3 linked regions of the Homo sapiens genome follow. The protein of the gene in region 1 interacts with the protein of each later gene in a pairwise test. Each region holds a gene or a part of one and is shown in the gene's direction. Other genes may lie near its edges.

Region 1 (8,386 bases):
ATCTATCCATCTGACAAAGGGCTAATATCCAGAATCTATGAGGAACTTAAACAAATTTACAAGAAAAAACCAAACAACCCCATCAAAAAGTGGGTGAAGGATATGAACAGACACTTCTCAAAAGAAGACATTTATGCTGCCAACAAACATATGAAGAAAGCTTGTCATCACTGGTCATTAGAGAAATGCAAATCAAAACCACAATGAGATGCCATCTCATGCCAGTTAGAATGGCGATCATGAAAAAGTCAGGAAACAACAGATGCTGGAGATGATGTGAAGAAATAGGAATGTTTTTACACTGTTGGTGGGAATGTAAATTAGTTCAACTATTATGGAAGACAGTGTGGTGATTCCTTAAGGATCTAGAACCAGAAACACCCTCTGACCCAGCAATCCCATTACTGGGTATATACCCACAGGATTTTACATCATTCTACTATAAAGACACATACACACGTATGTTTATTGCAGCACCATTCACGGCAGCAAAGACTTGGAACCAACCCAAATGCCCATCAGTGATAGAATGGATAAAGAAAATGTGACACGTATACACCATGGAATACTATGCAGCCGTAAAAAAGGATGAGCTCATGTCCTTTGCAGAGATATGGATGAAGCTGGAAACCATCATTCTCAGCAAACTAACACAGGAACAGAAAACCAAACACTACATGTTCTCACTCATAAGTGGGAGCTGAACAATGAGAACACATGGACACAAGGAGGAACATCACACACCAGGGCCTATCGGGGGGTGGGGGCTAGAGGAGGGATAGCATTAGGAGAAATATGTAATGTAGATGATGGGTTGATGGGTGCAGCAAACCACTATGGCAGGTGTATACCTATGTAACAAACCTGCAAGTTCTGCACATGTATCCCAGAACTTAAAGTAGAATAATTTTTTTTAAAAAGTACTTATCAGGTTTGCCCTGCCAACAGTCTCCATTCTCTATTTAAGTGTAAATGAGTAAGCTCTGCTTTCAGCTAGCCTCTTTCCTTTTTCTCAAAGTCTTTGAAAGTTCCTTTGGGAGTTTCAAATCTTCCCTTCCAGCCACCATTCTTTTATTCCTAAGGGTTGAGTTATCATGCTCTCCACTCTGTTTGGGAAGGGTATTAACCAGCCTGCCATTCAAGTTACTCAGACCTAGGAGGATCTTTTTACAGCTGAAGGAAGCTCTAAACCAGTGTCTCTAATCTTGAGGTCCAGCCACCTGGCTTGGCACTCTACTTTCCCCAGGCAAAGTCATTTTAGGTCATTGCCTAGGAAAACCCAGGCTTGAATGACCCTGTTGAGTAGAGGTTTTCAAAGGAGAAGTGAAGGGGAGGAGGTGTAGATTTTACAATGATGGAGGTGTGTGACGGAAAGGGCAGGTCAATGTCTTCTGAAAGGGCATACGTTTCATTGTAATTTCATGCTTGGAGCATTCCTAAAAATTAATATTTTAATAATGTAAATTGTAAAGAAAGAAGAATGACAAAACAGGCCGGTGGTGATGCACTGAAGATGCAAAACTTCTCTACGGTGGTATGGATGGGAACTGGAATTATTGGAATCGACTGGAGACGAGATTTTTATATGTATCAAAAAAAGACATGAATTTTTACAACAGTTGAGGAATGTAGTGGGATTTTGGGGCAAAGCCTTAGTTTAGTTTATATCCTTCTATTGTTCTAGATTTCCAAAGGGGTTTCTAACCCATGGGAACCCCAACTTATGAGGTAGCCTAAGCCATACTTTTTCAATCCAGAAAAAAGTTAGCTGTAACATGCAAAAGTTTTTAAGCTGTATTCAAACTCTGTCTGAAAGGGATTTTTTTTTATTGCTACAAAATTGCATAGTATATGTGACACATTTAACTTTTAGATATGTTTTGTTGAGTAATAAACTAATACTTATAACAGTCCCTGAACTATGTGGATAAAATATGGTTTACATCAGTGAATGTGTATACACATATAAAATACTACAAGGAAAGATTTATGATAACTCACTGACTAGTGAAAGATTGCTTCAGAAAGCATAAATCTCCCAAGATCAAACTAATAGCTTTCCCTGAGGGGGCTTCAAAAGAATTTACATTTGAATTGGATCTTGAAACTCTATGTTTGAATTTATCACCCATTCCTCAGGAAAGTTTATAGTTATATATAAGATAGCATTATAAAAATGAAATTCAATGACAACAAATTGTTTTGGTCTTTTAAAAATTATTATCATAATTATGTTACTCTACTGGACTGATTCTTGCTCTAAATTTAGCTTGTCCCCATAGCATCAAGAATCTGACCTCAAATGGATTTCATAAATAATCCCTTTTAATAAATACCATGATTCTTCGAAATGTAAAAAGAAATCTCATATGGAGGACCCAACAAGGAAAAAGATCTAAAACTAACACAATTTAAAAACTGGTAAAATTCTTCACCTTGGCTTCTTAAATCTGTTTCTATTGCCAACACATAGGTATAAAAAGGCATACAAATTATAATTTCCAAGAACCTGCAGCCAAATCCTCTCCAAATGCTAAGATATATGTGTCTTTACAGAGTCATTGATCCGTTTAGACTGCCACTCATGATTCATCTGTTCTTTAATTCCTAAGGATGAAGTTAGTTACAAGAAATAATGATAGGAATTTATTTTTTTTAAATTAAGAGCTGACAGAGAATAACATTTAAATATGCTAGAATTTATATGCATTCTGAAACAGATTTTCCTTATCAGAATTTATATCTGTATCTATATCTATAAGCTGAATGCACCCCTTTTAGCCCCTGGCTCTGCCCCTTCCTTGCTGTGGGCTGTTCATTGGACCCTTTTGTGCTGAAGTATCCTCACATCTAAAAATGGGGGTAACAATTGTAGTTACCTTATAGGATTGGTGAGAGACTTAAATAAGATAATATGAGTACGAAAACCATGTGCCTGGCCCATAATATAGGCTCAATGGATATTATCATGGTTAATACTTATACATCCAAATGACTGACCGTCAAAATATGATCAAGGCCTTGATATATGTCCCTTAAGCCCTATTTTGGTCTTGTTCTCCTTTCCAGTTGCATTTTACTTACTACACAGTGCAGCTATCCAATTTATACCTTATTTAAATCCTTGCCATAAAATAAGCTATTACAAATTTTGTTTAGGGGCTTAAGAGGGTTACTTCTTCCAATGGTTAAAATTATTTCAACCTCTTTATGATGAAAGAAGAGTAAAGGAAACAATGTCCGTTGAGCAAAGATATTGTTTAATTTTTCCGCTACTGTTTCTTCTACAGAATGGGCAGAACTCACTCTGGAAGAGCTGGTGGGAATAATGCCATTTGGGAAGCACACAACATAGGCAGCACAGTGGAGCACAAGAAAGTCCGGAGCTGTTAGCTCCCAGGTCCTGAAGGAATGAGAACTTTCACCGGAGTCTGGATTCCACTGTAGACAAAATCCTCTCTGCATCGCCAAATGACTCTTATTTTCCTAAACTTACTCTAAGAATATCTTTTAACAGCAATTTGAATAAACCGACTCACATGCCACTGTGATTTAATGTGTGATTTGCTGCCGAATCAGCTGTGTTTGGCCAGCCCTTCTGTCTTCACATTTTTCATAGTGTTTATCCTTAAGCTTAGCAACCAACCAAACTTCGAGTGGAATATCAACATTCAAGAGTAAAATGTATTATTAGTTTTCTAATTGTTCCACAAGAGATTGAGTTTGTGTAGTTTACATTTTTGCACTTTCTGTTTTACTTATATCCTCAACGCATGAAATTTTGGCCTGTTCCCCTTTACTATTCACAAACTTCCAAACACTGGTAAAAATGCCTTTGTGTGTCTTTAATTCACGTAACAGATTTGTGTTATGTTAAATGTTAGTGAATATATAAACCTAAGAATACAAGGATAATTTTGTTAAAGAATCAAAAAGTATCAGGACATTCGTTTGTCTTATGGCAGAGACAAATTGAAGTTCCCCACCAAGATATACGTATTTTGGATTTGGGCCAGACAGCTAAAAAACCTGTTTCAACTTAAAACCCAAAAAGGTTTTAAGTTGAAAAAATAATGCTGACTTTTGCTGAAAGTAAATTTTAAACAAAGGTTTTTTTTTTTAATTTACTCCATTAAAAATGCATACATTTGGACAGAGCGAGACTCTGTCTCAAAAAAAAAAAAAAAAGCATACATTTGTAGTCACAGAATTAGTTTTTGTTTTGACCTTGAAAAGGACTTGAAAGTATTTACTCCAAACTTACTTTACACATACTAAAAATATAGTTTTTGAAAAAAGAAAGTTGATGTGGCTTTTCAGACAAGGGAATGGTAGGTAATGTTTTGCATCAGCTCCGGGTCTTGGGTGATCTCCACCAATCAGAGATCCTTCAGAGCTCGTAGGGTCTAGAAAGATCATTATTTTACACCCTCATTTTACAGACAAAGAACCTGAGACCTGCTAGAGTAAGTGACTTGGTTAAGATAGGGAGCGCTCCAGAGACCAGGTCCAAGATCTTCCCCCGTTTCACAATTAGAAGGCGGCTGTCTAGAGGTCATTCCCTTCCTTATGATCCTCATAAAGTTAATTTCCAGTCTCTTGGAGAGAGAACTGGACGATCGCCTGGCTTAGAAGTTTTCCTCCCTCCCCGAACCCCGTTTTCTCTTCCATTTCTTCCGGTCGCGTGTCCCCAGCGCCCACAGGTGGAAATCAACCGCCCGCGGGGTTGCGGGGCACAAAGAGGCAGCTAGCGGCTCCGCTGACCCCTTCCCGCCGGCCTGGACGAAGTCTGGGCTCGGGAGCCGCGTGATGCATCCCAAAGAAGGCGCAGAACAGCACGTGTTCTCCCCGGTGCCCGGGGCTCCCACACCACCGCCCAATCGCTGCGGCCGCCTAGTGCTCGGGCCGCGCCTGCCGGCCGCGGGGACTCCGGGCCCGGGTATTCGCGCCGCCGCCGCCCGCCATGCGCTTCCGCTTTGGGGTGGTGGTGCCACCCGCCGTGGCCGGCGCCCGGCCGGAGCTGCTGGTGGTGGGGTCGCGGCCCGAGCTGGGGCGTTGGGAGCCGCGCGGTGCCGTCCGCCTGAGGCCGGCCGGCACCGCGGCGGGCGACGGGGCCCTGGCCCTGCAGGAGCCGGGCCTGTGGCTCGGGGAGGTGGAGCTGGCGGCCGAGGAGGCGGCGCAGGACGGGGCGGAGCCGGGCCGCGTGGACACGTTCTGGTACAAGTTCCTGAAGCGGGAGCCGGGAGGAGAGCTCTCCTGGGAAGGTATTGCCAGCAGACGCCTGCCCCCGGCGCAGAGCGGGAGCTCCGGCCCGCACCCCCAACCGGGGCCTCGGCCTCGGGCAGGCCCCGCAGGCCCCGGCGGCGCGCGTCCCGGGCTTTTTGCCCGCGTCCCTGCGCACTCCCCGGGCGACCTGGGCTGACCCTGCTCTGCCGGCCACGCTGTCGCCGCCAGCCGCGCCTCCGGCTTCCTACTGATTCCCTAGACCCGTATAGCGCTCCCGGCCGCCTTCCCGCCCACTCTGTTGCCTGCCCCTCTGACCTGGTTTCCGCACATCCAGTCCTCAGCTTCTTTCCAACCGCGCCTGCGTCACGGGCCAGTGCCCTTCGTCTCCCGCCCGGGGCTCCCTTCGCCCTCCGAGTGCCCCTCGACCTCCGAGTCCCCCCCTTCGCGGGTCCCTTGGCTGCCCGGCCGCGCGCCGCTGATGGCTTCAACAGCCCAACTCCGCCTTGGTTGGGTTTTGTGTCCTCATTTTCCTGCTCTAATTCACTAAAAAAAACCCAAAACGATCCAACCAACGAAACTAGCGTTTTCGCTAATCCTAGACAGCAATGTGCTACTTAGATTTTTTTCATAGATATTGAGAATGAACTAATGGAAAAACGTTGAATATTTCCCTTTTTGGATTTTTTTTTCTTTTTTAATCCCAGATATATGACAATTGAGACATGACCTGATTTCTTAAAATACTAAAACAATACATGCTGGTTGTAAAATAATAATAAAGAAATGTACATAGTGAAAACTTACAGTGTTTCCTCCACACATCTTAAGCACACTGCTTGTACACATTTATGTATGTGATATATGCATATACTTTTTTTTTTTACAAAAATTGTATAGTAATTCTGAATTTTTGCTTTTCTTGCCTAACAATATGTTAGGGACATCTTTCACTGTCACTACACGTAGATATGTATTTTACATGTAGATGTATATTTTAAATGGCAACAAATTATTCTGCATCTACCAATGTGCATTTAGGTTCTTTTCAGTTTTCCTCTGTCGTAAACAGTAGTGGCTTAATTGAAATTCCTTTTACAGATATCTTTGAACATTCGGGAGTGTTTCTGCAGAGTGGATTCAAAGAAGTGAAATTATTAGGTCAAAATGCAGTCATTTTTTTTAACACTTCATTAAAGACTGCTAAATTATGCCCTAAAAGGGTGATTATCTAATGTCGGCTCCCGCCAACAGTGTCTGAATTGAGACAGCTCCTTTCTTTAAAGGAAATGTGCAAGGTTGTAGACTGGAGTGGGTGTGACTCAATAGTTGAAGTCAATGAAATGAATGTCTCTTTAGAAGTTTATATGAAAAAAAAAATGGGCCATTTAGCCTGTAATGATGTAGAAACAAAGAATCAGTAAAGAAGATTAGAGTGGAATGTGTTTATATATTATCCTTGTTCTCCTTCTCTACCTCACTGGGCTTATGGTCTGGTAGCATTTATTGGTCTGTTATTTTACCATGACAGAATTGAAAGATACCCTCTTCAGTTTATCCTTTCTTTACAGAGTATTACTATTTTTCATAGTATTGTAGAATTATTTTTTAAAATAATATCTGATAATTGTAATAAAAATGGAAATGGTGTGAAACAAAGATCTTCCCTTTCCCTAGTTATTTAGCTTTTCTGATAGTCCTCCCTATGCCGTTAATAGTTTGCTTATGTTGCTATTTCTTAAGGTACCACAAACTTTTGTTTTTAATTTTTCTAATAGTTACCATATAAGTTATATATAATTTTAAAAGTTAAAATTAGGCAATAGATATTGACACCTACTGGATGCTCATAAAATTAACCATCACACTTGTTATGAAATATGAGGAATTTAGCTCAAGTTCACTCTCTGTCTTCCCTGCTGATTTTTTTTTACTATTATTTTCAGTTTTTTTGATAAATATTTTTCTTTACTATCCAAGCAGGAATTATTTTCAGTTTTGTATTAAAAATTGACTGTTGACTTTCTAGGAAGTTACTCCTATAAGAGAGGATAAGAAAAATATTACAATTTCTTCCTGTCTCACTTTGGTTTATTATGACTTTTACATTATCAAGTTTTATATAATTTATATTCTATTTTCTAATTGTTACAGTGCCTTCTTGTTTAAGGTAAATAGACTGATTCTAAACATCGTAAATTAACAGAGAGCTTTATGAGAAGCAGGGTAGCCAAGTGTTTAAGAGCAAGGATTCTGGAGCCAGATTGCCTGGGCTCACCAACCAGTGTGGGATTTGAGGCGTGTCACCTCAGCTCACAATGAAAGGACCAAGCTGCCTAATAAATGAACTGTATTTTGTAGAATAGGATATATATTAAGAACTTACAAGAGGACATATGGTAAATGTTAAATAAGGGCTAGTTATTATTTTTTACTATGATTATTGGGAAACCACGTTGTGCAATTAGACTCGTAAACAAGGAAATAAAATTTTGTGACATGAAAACTGTACCACTGCAAGGAAAAATTCTCTTTTCTTCACTATAAATCATGTTCAGATTTTACTTAAAATGGTACTAGAATTTGTTTTACTTCATATTTGGACTGTAATGTTCTTCTACAACTTATTTAAAAATTTGTTATTAATTTTTTTAACAGAAGAGTTAAACCAGTTCTCACAATGTCCTAGCTTAATTGCACTACTTGATGAATGCATATTGCTTATTTCTTGGAAATAGAATTTTTTCCTTGAAGAATTAGGATTCCTGTTCTAATTTTCACTTTTCACTAATATATGGCTTTCTGATATATATATATATATATATATGTGTGTGTGTGTTTCTGATATATGTATCAGTTTTATATAAAATATTGACCGTTGACTTTCTGTTACATAGAAAGTTCATTCTCATAATCCTATTATGCAGGAAGTTACCCCTATATGAGAGGATAAGAAAAATAGCTTACTTACACATTCCTCTCCCTTCCTTACTTTGGCGCGCACACACACACACACACACACACACACACACACACAAGTCTTAGCTGTAAACCTGAGACTTTAAAGAAAACAATCGAACTCCTATGTTAGTTGCACTGTTTTAAATGGTATATCTTCCTCTTTCTTAAAAACCTTAATCATTTCTTTGGAAAATTTTCAAGA
Region 2 (6,503 bases), on another chromosome or scaffold:
GTATGGTATTGGATTTACCAACATGGTGGAAAGGACCACGCCCGGCAGCAAAGATCTCTCCAGGTAAGTACACAGCATTTGCTTTTATGGGTTGGAACCTTGAGTATGCTGGTGCCCCAAATATTCTAGGAACATCATATGTATCTAGTTCAAGCTGAGCTCAACAAATGTACAATATGCTCTTTCATTGAAAGCTGTCTGAATTTAGCATATTATAAATATTGTCATATTTATATTTTTGACTACTTTTTAATTCAATTTTAGTAAAGAATTTCGTGAAGGAGGACGTATTCTAGTACAGAAATTACAGAAATATCAGCCACGAATAGCAGTGTTTAATGGAAAATGTAAGATTTACTTTTAAATTTTTTTTTTCTTTGCTAACATTATGGGCAATGTAAATATGTTTGTATTTCATTTTAGGTATTTATGAAATTTTTAGTAAAGAAGTTTTTGGAGTAAAGGTTAAGAACTTGGAATTTGGGCTTCAGCCCCATAAGATTCCAGACACAGAAACTGTAAGTCCCTAAAATTGAATTTGTAAATCAGCTAAATGTGAATTTTTTTCTAGATAATTTCCTTATTTGTCCTATCCATTGTGATTTATACCATGCAAAACAATTACACTGTATTTTGTTGAATAATACCTATACATCAGCTTTAACTAATAGTTGTAAATTAATTCAAATACTATTAGGGTTTATTAGAAAGAAAAACATTTGTCAGCTAAATGTCTTGATGTTGTTATTCAGTGAAAATATTGAGAGGAACTGGCTCATATACTACATTCAGAATACATTTAATGGCATGTAGTTGTCAAATTCAAATGGTTTAGCCCTCGTACTGTTGTGAAACAAACATGGAAACACAGACATGATCCTGATTAGGAAAACCAGTTGCCCCATTTATATATCTTAGCTCAACTTCATTTTAGAGCCATATAAATAATACAACCCAGACAAGCCTCCAGCCAACCTAACTGGCATTCAATACTGTTGTCTTATACACAAAGTCATCATGAAATAACAGTGTTTTTCAAATTGTCCTCTCTACAGAGCTTCTGCAGGCATTTGGTTCCAATTTTGCTTCTTAGTTTTAGGTTTTATTTACAACTTTTAAAGAACAACACAGTGCACAGATTTACATGTTGTATATACAACATCTTAACTGATGGAGAAGCTAATTTGCTGCCAGGTTTTTGTGGAAACCTAAAAATGTTTCTGCCACCTAAATATATTTAAATTTCTCCTTTAAAATTGTTTTTGTTCATAATTTCTTATAAATATGCAATTGATGAGTTTTATTATAGCATTGGTTTTTGCTTAAATAAAGGCCCACCTTTGTCTGCTTGGTTAAAATGGTACAAATTCACTACCTGTAGTGAATTGTAGAGAAATTCCTGTAGAGTACTGTGTCATTCTCTGTTACATGCCATTTGGAGGCCGGGCGTGGTGGCTCATGCCTATAATCCCAGCACTTTGGGAGGCCGAGGCAGGCGGATCACCTGAGGTTAGGAGTTCGAGACCAGCCTGGCCAACATGGTGAAACCCCATCTCCACTAAAAAATACAAAAATTAGCCAGGCATGGTGGCATGCGCTGTAATCCCAGCTACGTAGGAGGCTGAGGCAGAAGAATCGCTTGAACCCAGGAGGCAGCTCATTAGGCGGAGGCTCATTATTTTTCACTTCCTGACTTGGTAATAAGTCAGTATTACAAATTCAACCTTAAAAGCAACTACTTTTATTGATTTTTACATATATTTATATGTAGTTAAGTATCAAGTTATTAACCCAAATAAAGACAAATATTCTAATCTCAATGAGTGAATTCAATAGAATTATAAGATTTCTGAAATTATAAAATGTTGTGATTCTAGCTCTGCTATGTTATGCCATCATCCAGTGCAAGATGTGCTCAGTTTCCTCGAGCCCAAGACAAAGTTCATTACTACATAAAACTGAAGGACTTAAGAGATCAGTTGAAAGGCATTGAACGAAATATGGACGTTCAAGAGGTGCAATATACATTTGACCTACAGCTTGCCCAAGGTATGTTACTGTCCTCATTCCTTTTATTCATTTTGTGTGTGTATATATACACATATATACTTACATATATATACACATATACATATATACATATACACATATACATATGTGTGCACATATATGCACACGTGTATATATACATGTGTATATATACATATATACACATAAGTATGTATGTCTATATACATATATGTGTGTATACACTTGTGTGCGTATACATATGTGTGTGTCTATATATAGACACATACACACACACACACACACACACACACACACACACACACACACATTACAGAAAGTATCTTATGGATTTAAAAGCAGGAAAAAAGAAAACAATTATATTCGCAGCCAGAGTGCTCTGATAATGAATATTAGTCACTGTTAAAATCTCCTTTTACCAAGGTCTTCCCTCTACTCTGGCACTTCTGCAGATAATTCACCTGCAGAGTGCCAGAGCAGAGGGATGTAAGAAATATTGTACCCTACGTAAAGTTGAATGTAAGCGGTTTTTACAGTTCTTATGTGTTTATTTAGTACATGCTATAAGTTTAAAAGATTAATAGAGATGTATCTCAGTGTATATGAATATTCAAGAAAAAGAATTGTTCATGATTTCTGAATAAAGCTACTTTTAAAATTGTTGTACAAAATCAGATTTAAATCCTTTTTACCTTCCTCACAGAGGATGCAAAGAAGATGGCTGTTAAGGAAGAAAAATATGATCCAGGTTATGAGGCAGCATATGGTGGTGCTTACGGAGAAAATCCATGCAGCAGTGAACCTTGTGGCTTCTCTTCAAATGGGCTAAGTATGGTTCCCTCCACATGTGTATTCCTTTCAAAGACGGTTTGGTCAGGATTGGGGGGAAAATTTTAATAGAAGGAGAGTAAATTATTGAAGAATGGGAATGATAATATGAAATTTTATTTAGTGACTAATAGTGAAAAATTGATGGTTATTTCACGTTGAATTACACAGACTTTTACAGTACATTTTCTTTTTTGTTTGTTTGTTTTTGAGACAGATTCTCGCTGTGTCACCCAGGCTAGAGTGCAGTGGCTCGATCTTGGCTCACTGCAAGCTCCCCCTCCTGGGTTCACACCATTCTCCTGCCTCAGCCTCCCGAGTAGCTGGGACTACAGGCATCCGCCACGATGCCTGGCTAATTTTTTTTGTATTTTTAATAGAGACAGGGTTTCACCGTGTTAGCCAGGTTGGTCTCGATCTCCTGACCTCGTGATCTGCCCACCTTGGCCTCCAAAAGTGCTGGGATTACAGGCATGAGCCACCGCACCCGGCCTACAGTGCATTTTCTTTAAGTCATGAACTCTAGGCCATCCTAGTTGCATTTTCCTCCTTTAATAACAAATGAGTCCTGTATCTGAAGAACAGAAACTTAACAGTTGTATTCCGGAAGCTTGCTTAACTATTTTAATAATAATTCTCCTTCACTAGACTGTTAAAATCTCCTACTTTGATCATTTAAAACTTCCAGGCCGGGCATGGTGGTTCACGCCTGTAATCCCAGCAGTTTGAGAGGCTGAGGTGGGTGGATCATTTGAGGTCAGGAGTTCGAGACCAGCCTGGCCAACATGGTGAAACCCCATCTCTACTAAAATATACAAAAATTAGCATGGTGGCAGGTATAATCCTAGCTACTTGGGAGGCTGAGGCAGGAGTATCATTATATATAATATATATGCCTCTCCTCGATCCCGGGAGGCAGAGGCTGTAGTGAGCCGAAATCACACCACTGGACTCCAGCCTGGGTGACAGAATGAGACACCGTCTCAAAAAGAAAAAAAAAAACTTCAAATAAGCTGATACGGTGGCTCACACCTGTAATCCCAGTGCTTTGAGAGGCTAGGATGGGAGGATCACTCAAGCCCAGGAGTTTGAGGCTGCAAAGAGCTGTGATCATGCCACTGCATTCCAGCCTGGGCGATAGAGTAAGACCCAGTCTCTACTTTAAAAAAAGCAAATATTTCTAAATGGCATAAACTAACTTTGTTTTTCTTTTCTGGCAGTTGAGAGCGTGGAGTTAAGAGGAGAATCAGCTTTCAGTGGCATTCCTAATGGGCAGTGGATGACCCAGTCATTTACAGACCAAATTCCTTCCTTTAGTAATCACTGTGGAACACAAGAACAGGAAGAAGAAAGCCATGCTTAAGAATGGTGCTTCTCAGCTCTGCTTAAATGCTGCAGTTTTAATGCAGTTGTCAACAAGTAGAACCTCAGTTTGCTAACTGAAGTGTTTTATTAGTATTTTACTCTAGTGGTGTAATTGTAATGTAGAACAGTTGTGTGGTAGTGTGAACCGTATGAACCTAAGTAGTTTGGAAGAAAAAGTAGGGTTTTTGTATACTAGCTTTTGTATTTGAATTAATTATCATTCCAGCTTTTTATATACTATATTTCATTTATGAAGAAATTGATTTTCTTTTGGGAGTCACTTTTAATCTGTAATTTTAAAATACAAGTCTGAATATTTATAGTTGATTCTTAACTGCATAAACCTAGATATACCATTATCCCTTTTATACCTAAGAAGGGCATGCTAATAATTACCACTGTCAAAGAGGCAAAGGTGTTGATTTTTGTATATGAAGTTAAGCCTCAGTGGAGTCTCATTTGTTAGTTTTTAGTGGTAACTAAGGGTAAACTCAGGGTTCCCTGAGCTATATGCACACTCAGACCTCTTTGCTTTACCAGTGGTGTTTGTGAGTTGCTCAGTAGTAAAAACTGGCCCTTACCTGACAGAGCCCTGGCTTTGACCTGCTCAGCCCTGTGTGTTAATCCTCTAGTAGCCAATTAACTACTCTGGGGTGGCAGGTTCCAGAGAATGCAGTAGACCTTTTGCCACTCATCTGTGTTTTACTTGAGACATGTAAATATGATAGGGAAGGAACTGAATTTCTCCATTCATATTTATAACCATTCTAGTTTTATCTTCCTTGGCTTTAAGAGTGTGCCATGGAAAGTGATAAGAAATGAACTTCTAGGCTAAGCAAAAAGATGCTGGAGATATTTGATACTCTCATTTAAACTGGTGCTTTATGTACATGAGATGTACTAAAATAAGTAATATAGAATTTTTCTTGCTAGGTAAATCCAGTAAGCCAATAATTTTAAAGATTCTTTATCTGCATCATTGCTGTTTGTTACTATAAATTAAATGAACCTCATGGAAAGGTTGAGGTGTATACCTTTGTGATTTTCTAATGAGTTTTCCATGGTGCTACAAATAATCCAGACTACCAGGTCTGGTAGATATTAAAGCTGGGTACTAAGAAATGTTATTTGCATCCTCTCAGTTACTCCTGAATATTCTGATTTCATACGTACCCAGGGAGCATGCTGTTTTGTCAATCAATATAAAATATTTATGAGGTCTCCCCCACCCCCAGGAGGTTATATGATTGCTCTTCTCTTTATAATAAGAGAAACAAATTCTTATTGTGAATCTTAACATGCTTTTTAGCTGTGGCTATGATGGATTTTATTTTTTCCTAGGTCAAGCTGTGTAAAAGTCATTTATGTTATTTAAATGATGTACTGTACTGCTGTTTACATGGACGTTTTGTGCGGGTGCTTTGAAGTGCCTTGCATCAGGGATTAGGAGCAATTAAATTATTTTTTCACGGGACTGTGTAAAGCATGTAACTAGGTATTGCTTTGGTATATAACTATTGTAGCTTTACAAGAGATTGTTTTATTTGAATGGGGAAAATACCCTTTAAATTATGACGGACATCCACTAGAGATGGGTTTGAGGATTTTCCAAGCGTGTAATAATGATGTTTTTCCTAACATGACAGATGAGTAGTAAATGTTGATATATCCTATACATGACAGTGTGAGACTTTTTCATTAAATAATATTGAAAGATTTTAAAATTCATTTGAAAGTCTGATGGCTTTTACAATAAAAGATATTAAGAATTGTTATCCTTAACTTACGGGCTTTTTCTATAGCAAGACTGAGTGGTATTCTTTCCCCTTTAAACCTGAGGTCAGTTTACCTTCTATTATATTTAACATGTAGAATAGTAACATGATAAAAATCATAAAAATGATGAATATTTTATTTTTCAGACGTCCATATTTTAAATGTAATAGTTTTATAAAAGAAAAGGTTGGCAACCTGTTAAGGAGATCTTCATGTGAAAAATACATGTAGAAGTTTTAAAAATTTGTGGATATAATTGTCATTCAGAATTAAGCAGGTTGATTGCTGTTATCTAGATGGGTCTCTTCCTTTATGTTTTTCAGTCACATAATCTTGATTTCCATAGTTATCACATGTACTTAAAGAAGTTAATCAATGCCTATATGGTCCAAGGTATAATTTGCACACAGTAGTTTTTGGTTTTTATATTGTGGATCATATGTATCAAAGGTAATATTCATAAAGAACAATGTTATAGTTGGCTACAAAGGGACAATTCCACATTT
Region 3 (7,000 bases), on another chromosome or scaffold:
TCCTTAAATGCTGGAACATGGAAAACTGGCTACATTATGTATCTTGCCTCCTCACATTTTTATCTGAGGCCTGACCTTATGTCCCCTTCGTTTCCTATGAAAAGGCCCTTCGAACAGGCAGTTCTCCAATTGAACTTTAAAACAATCCAGTTAATATAGTTTCATTACTCTAGCTTCTCTTACTTTGACCAAATCCATTCTTTATTTCACTTCTCAGAGAAGTGAAGAAATGCTTTTTTATGTTTCTTTTCTTAATCTAATAAATCATTCTTGGTAATGCTTCATTTTCCCATTTAGGCCTACCTGTATGTACATTGTATTTTATCTGATTGTGCAAATAAGTCTTTTTAATGTAACTCTTATGAAAGTCTCCCTTGTTAATCAAATTCATCTTTTCTTTCACAAAAGTTCCATGCTTCAGTATTGTCCACAGCTACCTGAAGGAATTAGTAATGTGTCATTTAAGTGTCCTTCAGTATTTCTAAATACCCTTATAATAATGAAGGTAAAATTAAATTTAAATAAATGATCAATTAGATTAACTTTGTAAGCATCTGACTTAATTGGATGAGAACATTTCCAAAATATTTAATATGTAATTTTAAAATTCCTGAAGGACTTATGAAATTGCTTGTTCTTAAAACATTTAAAGAACTTTACCTTGGCTGGGCGCGGTGGCTCACGCCTGTAATCCCAGCACTTTGGGAGGCCGAGGTGGGTGGATCACGAGGTCAAGAGTTCAAGACCAGCCTGGCCAAGATAGTGAAAACCCATCTCTACTAAAAATACAAAAATTAGCCAGGCTCGGTGGCAGGCGCCTGTAATCTCAGCTACTCGGGAGGCTGAGGCAGGAGAATCGCTTGAACCCGGGAGGCGGAGGTTGCAGTGAACCAATATCGTGCCACTGCACTCCAGCCTGGGCAACAGAGCAAGACTCTATCTCAAAAAAAAAAAAAAAAATCCTTTTACCTTACAGTGCATTTTATAGCATTGTCATCTTCAAAGTCAAAATGGACATATAAACTCAAATGCCAAAAAAGGTTGTAAAAATTCAATAAAAAATACAATATCTAGAACATTTAAATTATAGCAATTCTTATTAGTGAAGGTCTTAATAATCATAAAAGTTTTATGACCAGTGGACAAATGATAAATGTCTCCCTATTTTCACCTAGCCTTTAAGAAAGCCTTGGTGGTGGTGACAGCTGTCATATGGTCAACTGATGTAAGGAGTGTACCTGCTTTTACAGTTACATAAATTTGAACAAATTCATGTCGCCCCCCCCAAAAAATGCAAAAGACATTGTGCTCTAAAGATATTTAACATCCCTATACAGTTAATCATTTCTGTTTAAATTACAATGCAATAGATTTTACCGCTTCACCAATCCAGTTGGTAGGATTTTGTGGTCTTCAAATGTTTGATGTGATCTGTCTTCTCTGCATCTTGCTTTACTTGTGTATGTTGTAACCATGATTGAACCTATCCCTCTAACTTAATGTTGGTTTCTACCCTGTCTCAGTGTTGTCAGTCCTGTTGGCATTTTAGAAATTCTCATTAATTTTGAAAATATTTTTTGTATTGGAGGTATTTTATATACTTCCCCAAATGACAACTTTAATTCATGACTGAAATCTAATTAAGCCTAGTATACTTCCTGCAGTATCAACCCCACTGTATTTACAAAGAGAATGAGGAGGTGACAAGACACTTTTTATTTCTTGCTGCCCTTCCAGTCAGCCCTTGGATCACTGCGCATTTCCATCTGGAAGGTTGCTTCTCCTCAGTGATTTCGCATTACAGGAGGGTTTTCCTTCTTTGTTTCTCAGACCTGGTCCTGTAGACGGGAAGGAGCCTGGACACAGTGACACATTCTCAAAGGCCCTGCAGGACCACCATGGCTTATGATGACTCCGTGAAGAAAGAAGGTATGACCCCATAATCTGAGAAGCATTCCAAAGGGGGTATCCTCTTCAATCCTTGCAGCCCATGGATATAGAGACCAGGACTGGGCACCACAGCCTGGACTCCCAAGTGATGGTCCAGAGCACTGTTATGACACTCAGCCTCCACGCCATCCCCAGACTGGGCCCATGGAAACGAAAACCAGGACAGGGGTTCCAACACGAGAGTCTGAAATATGAGTCTCTTAGTTTATTGGGGTGATCCCCTGCAGCACTCTTGGTCCTTGCCAGCTCCAGTGTGCAGGAGTCTGGGGATAGGAATCACATCCTGGACTCCCACAGAGAGCAGCACAGCACATGAATCCTTATTCTTTTCAGCCTTTCGTCTGCAAGTCTGTGTCCTCCTACCAAATCACAACTCAGAAACCATATCTGAGGTTGCACATGGGGCCTTTGCATAGCATGGAAACATTGTTTCTTCAGGTTTGATTCTTGTATTTGCAGCTAGGTCATCAAGAAATATTCTGTTCCCCTGGGTCTAGCCCTGTATTTCAGTGGACTTGATTGAAACATTGTTTTAATTTGGAAATAGAGGAACTGTTGCATTACCTGCATGACGATTTGGTCATTACTTACTTGACTTTCTCATTTCCTTTCCCAAATAAACCTGTGCTTCTCAGATTGTTTTGATGGTGATCATACCTTTGAGGACATAGGACTTGCAGCTGGCCGAAGCCAACGAGAGAAAAAACGTTCTTACAAAGATTTTTTAAGGGAAGAGGAAGAAATTGCTGCTCAGGTCAGGAATTCTTCCAAGAAGAAGTTGAAGGTAAGTCCTGAAAATTTAAATTAGGAAAGTCTTAAACTACTCATTTTTTTTTGGTGATGCAGAGTTTTTTTTTGTTTTTTTTTTTTTTCTCTCATGGCCCAGGCTTGAATGCAATGGCACAATCTCTGCTCACTGCAACCTTCGACTCCCAGGTTCAAGCGTTTCTCTTGCCTCAGCCTCCCGAGTAGCTGGAATTACAGGCGCGGGCCACCACGCCTGGCCAATTTTTGTATTTTATCAGAGACAGGGTTTCACCATGTTGGCCAGGCAGGTCTCAAACTCCTGACCTCAAATGATTCACCTGCCTCCGCCTCCCAAAGTGCTGGGATTACAGGCCTGGGCCACTGCGCCAGGAAAGTCTTAAACTACTTCTTACCATATTTCCTAATATTTGAAGAAGGAAGTATTTTTTAATAACTTGAGAAAAGAAAAATAAAACGTTATGCACATCTATTTTTATTATTTCTTGTGCTTTGTTTCCCAAAATCAAAAATCATCAAAGACAAGAGTGGTTACAAACTGCATTTGCCTCATCATCTTATTATTGGTCAATTCTTCTTTAATTATAGGATAGTGAACTTTACTTCTTGGGGACGGACACACACAAGAAGAAGAGGAAGCACTCCTCTGATGATTACTACTATGGAGGTGAGGATGGGAATGGGCAACAGGTGGGATAAACACATCGCTGGTTCTTGGAGTCGGGGTAGGGGAAAGGGATCCAGATGTTGCTGACTCAGTGGCCTATTTAACAGGACAGTGGTTCTTGTTCTGAGTGCCGATAAACCAGTGTGAAGGAGGAGAGAGGTGGAGGGCTGGTATTTTGGAGGATTCAGCATAGAAGAACAGTCTGCATTTGTGATACACCAGGTACCAGGTTCCTTCTCCCCCCAATCATCCACTTATCTTGTGCCCATTGTTATCTAGCATCCCTTTTGCCATACGTAGTCCTCTGGCCTGCACCTGTGGGTCACTTCTCAACCAGTATATATCCACTCACAGAACCAGTTTTCTTAGCTATGTTATGCACATAGCTGATGAGACTCAACTTTCACCAGAATGGGTTTGTCCTGAACACAGAAACAAATGATACTCTGTCTGCAATCTGAATTGTTAACTTCCCATAATCCCACAGCTATAGTCAGTTCTTCTGGGTATGTGCTCTTTGGTTGCTTCTGAAGACTCAATGAAGAGAAACAACTTTAGTGGCAAGAACTGTGTCCAGGGTCAGAGGCAGACTCTACCAAGCCAAGAAGCACAAGGGCATCATTTCTCAATGTTAGGAATCAGTTAAAGGGTCTCCCTTCAAATCATTCCTGTTAGCCTCTTTCTCATGTTAGCTAGGTGCTTTTGATGAGAGAGGAAACTTGTTAGAAGTTGCTTCCCATCATATTGACAGTACTTCTCTTGATTATTTCTAGATATTTCGTCTTTGGAATCGTCACAGAAGAAAAAGAAAAAGTCCAGCCCACAGTCTACTGATACAGCTATGGACCTGTTGAAAGCTATCACTTCCCCACTGGCAGCAGGCTCCAAGCCCTCCAAAAAGACTGGGGAGAAATCCTCTGGCTCTTCAAGCCATTCGGAGAGTAAAAAGGAGCACCACAGGAAGAAAGTCAGTGGAAGCAGTGGGGAACTACCCCTAGAGGATGGTGGCTCCCACAAATCGAAAAAAATGAAACCTCTCTATGTGAACACAGAGACACTGACCCTTCGGGAGCCTGATGGTTTAAAAATGAAACTTATTCTGTCACCAAAGGAGAAGGGAAGCAGCTCTGTTGATGAGGAGTCTTTTCAATATCCCTCCCAACAAGCGACTGTGAAAAAATCCTCAAAGAAATCAGCTCGGGATGAGCAGGGTGCTTTACTCCTAGGACATGAGTTACAGAGCTTTCTGAAAACAGCCCGGAAAAAGCACAAGTCATCCTCAGACGCACATTCATCTCCTGGCCCTGAAGGCTGTGGGTCTGACGCCTCCCAGTTCGCAGAGTCCCACAGTGCTAACCTTGATCTTTCAGGGCTTGAACCTATTCTGGTAGAATCAGACTCATCCTCTGGTGGGGAACTAGAGGCTGGGGAGTTAGTGATAGATGATTCTTACCGAGAAATCAAGAAGAAAAAGAAGTCAAAGAAGAGCAAAAAGAAGAAAGACAAGGAGAAGCATAAAGAGAAGCGACACTCCAAGTCCAAGAGAAGTTTAGGACTTTCTGCCGTGCCAGTGGGAGAGGTCACAGTGACATCTGGCCCTCCTCCCAGCATCCCATACGCTGGAGCAGCAGCACCTCCCCTGCCACTTCCTGGCCTCCACACAGATGGGCATAGTGAAAAAAAAAAGAAAAAAGAAGAGAAGGACAAAGAGAGAGAGAGAGGAGAAAAGGTAAAGCATCTTTTAAGTGTGGTGGGGGTAAGAGATTAAGCAGGTTCTTCCTGGGTAGTCAGTGGACTTTTAAGTTAAGCAGTTGAGGTAAACCACTGGGAATTAAGCATGTTTGGGGGATATGTTGGAATGATATAAAGTATAAAATATTACCAGTAGCCCAGTCTGTCTGATATAGAAGCAATCTTTTTTTTTTTTTTTGAGATGGAGTCTCGCTCTGTCGCCCAGGCTGGAGTGCAGTGGTGCAGTCTGGGCTCACTGCAACCTCCTCCTCCCAGGTTCAAGCCTCACCCTCCCAAGTAGCTGAAATTACAGGCACCCGCCACCACACCCGACTAATTTTTTTTTTTTTTTTTTGTATTTTTAATAGAGACGAGGTTTCACCATGTTGGCCAGGCTGGTCTCAAACTCCTGACCTCAAGTGATCCACCCACCTCAGCCTCCCAAAGTGCTAGGATTACAGGCATGAGCCACCATGCCCGGCCTAGGGTTTCTTAATAGAGTTATTCTCCCATTGTGCCAGGAATAGGTTTAGTTACACTGTGGCTTTTTCCAGCTAGTTCTTAGAATTCACAGAAGGAGCTAAACCCAATTTCTTTCACTTAGCATCACTGTCTGCTTAGGGCAGTTGGGAGATGTCAAAAGGTGTTCTTTGAGTTCATTTTTAAAAACAGACTATCAAAATTGGTAGAACAATGAGCAGTCAAGTTAACAGAATAGCTAATGACTTTCCACCAGCTGGTGTTGGCTACTTTCTGGTATTCTTTTTAGTGTCGAATATATGTTCTTTTACTGTCTGAGTGCTTGCTGTATGCCAAGCTCAATGCTGTAGATAGTACCAGGAAGTAAAAACACAAGCAGGACATAGTTGTTGACTTTAGGGAGCTCACTGTTGATTAGGGAGATAGGAATGATAAATCAGTCACCTTGGTTTGATTTCTTTCCTCATAACAGTTTCTGGCAGTGAACTTTAGGGTCTCATAACTATGTCATTAAAAGTTTCTTTTTTTATTTATAGTTCTGCAAAATGCAATGTCAGATAAAATCTGGAAGAAAAGCGACTAAGAACGAGAAAATCAAATGTATTAAGAATCTGGGGCTGGGTGTGGTGGCTCATGCCTGTAATCCCAGCACTTTGGGAGGCTGAGGCAGGTGGATCCCTTGAGCCCAAGAGTTCGGGACCGGCCTGGGCAACATAGCGAAACCCAGTCTCTACAAAAAAATACAAAAATTTGCCTGGTGTGGGGGTGCACATCTATAGTCCCAGCTACTCAGGAGATTGAGGTGAGAGGATTGCTTAAGCCCAAGAGGTGGAGGCTACAGTGAGCTATAATCTTGCCACTGCAACTTCAGCCTGGACAGCAGAGTGAGGCTCCCTGTCTCAAAAGAAAAAAGAAAAGAATCTAGGAATGGGAATTTAGTTTGATCTCTGAGGTGGAAGTTATTTCTCCACTATAAAGGGTGCCTTTTAAGAAAGTCTGCTTATATCTATCTGTTTATATCTATCTGTAGATCTATATCTGTTTATCAGTATGTGTGTGTGTATATATAATATATATAAAATAATATATTATATATATATACACACACACATCTGTTTATCTCAAAAAAACCACAAAGCTGTACCTCTGAGCCAGGAATCAGTGTGAACATAAAGACCTGGATATTCCAATACTAAGTCAGGTTTTATTCAGTTGTTTATTTGGAAAATTGCTTTATGAAATAAACACTATGTGTTCTTTATAAGATTCTGTTTATCCTAAGAATTTCCAGTCTAGTGACGTGATAATGCCATGGACTAATCATCCAGTGCTGAATGTCGGAGCACAGGGTCAGGGAAAGCTTGAAGAAGGAGAAGGTTTCAGTGGAAGTGGACGCATGGAGGCAGA

Evidence for each region.
Region 2: the proteins of EPM2A (region 1) and TDG interact in a two-hybrid assay, tested with the Homo sapiens proteins (one study listed by BioGRID).
Region 3: the proteins of EPM2A (region 1) and HMGXB4 interact in a two-hybrid assay, tested with the Homo sapiens proteins (one study listed by BioGRID).

What each region holds. Positions count from the first base shown.
Region 1 is NC_000006.12:145,732,076-145,740,461, reverse strand, and holds the start of EPM2A (laforin), read left to right. Parts: upstream 1-4,941; 5' UTR 4,942-4,963; coding exon 4,964-5,264; intron 5,265-5,541; exon of another isoform or gene 5,542-5,593; intron 5,594-8,386. UniProt on the Homo sapiens protein: Plays an important role in preventing glycogen hyperphosphorylation and the formation of insoluble aggregates, via its activity as glycogen phosphatase, and by promoting the ubiquitination of proteins involved in glycogen metabolism via its interaction with the E3 ubiquitin ligase NHLRC1/malin.
Region 2 is NC_000012.12:103,982,872-103,989,374, forward strand, and holds the end of TDG (G/T mismatch-specific thymine DNA glycosylase), read left to right. Parts: coding exon 1-63; intron 64-264; coding exon 265-347; intron 348-423; coding exon 424-518; intron 519-1,877; coding exon 1,878-2,049; intron 2,050-2,731; coding exon 2,732-2,857; intron 2,858-4,076; coding exon 4,077-4,219; 3' UTR 4,220-6,003; downstream 6,004-6,503. UniProt on the Homo sapiens protein: DNA glycosylase that plays a key role in active DNA demethylation: specifically recognizes and binds 5-formylcytosine (5fC) and 5-carboxylcytosine (5caC) in the context of CpG sites and mediates their excision through base-excision repair (BER) to install an unmethylated cytosine.
Region 3 is NC_000022.11:35,260,493-35,267,492, forward strand, and holds part of HMGXB4 (HMG domain-containing protein 4), read left to right. Parts: exon of another isoform or gene 1-1,033; intron 1,034-1,830; 5' UTR 1,831-1,898; coding exon 1,899-1,929; intron 1,930-2,585; coding exon 2,586-2,734; intron 2,735-3,303; coding exon 3,304-3,382; intron 3,383-3,489; exon of another isoform or gene 3,490-3,604; intron 3,605-4,155; coding exon 4,156-5,111; intron 5,112-7,000. UniProt on the Homo sapiens protein: Negatively regulates Wnt/beta-catenin signaling during development.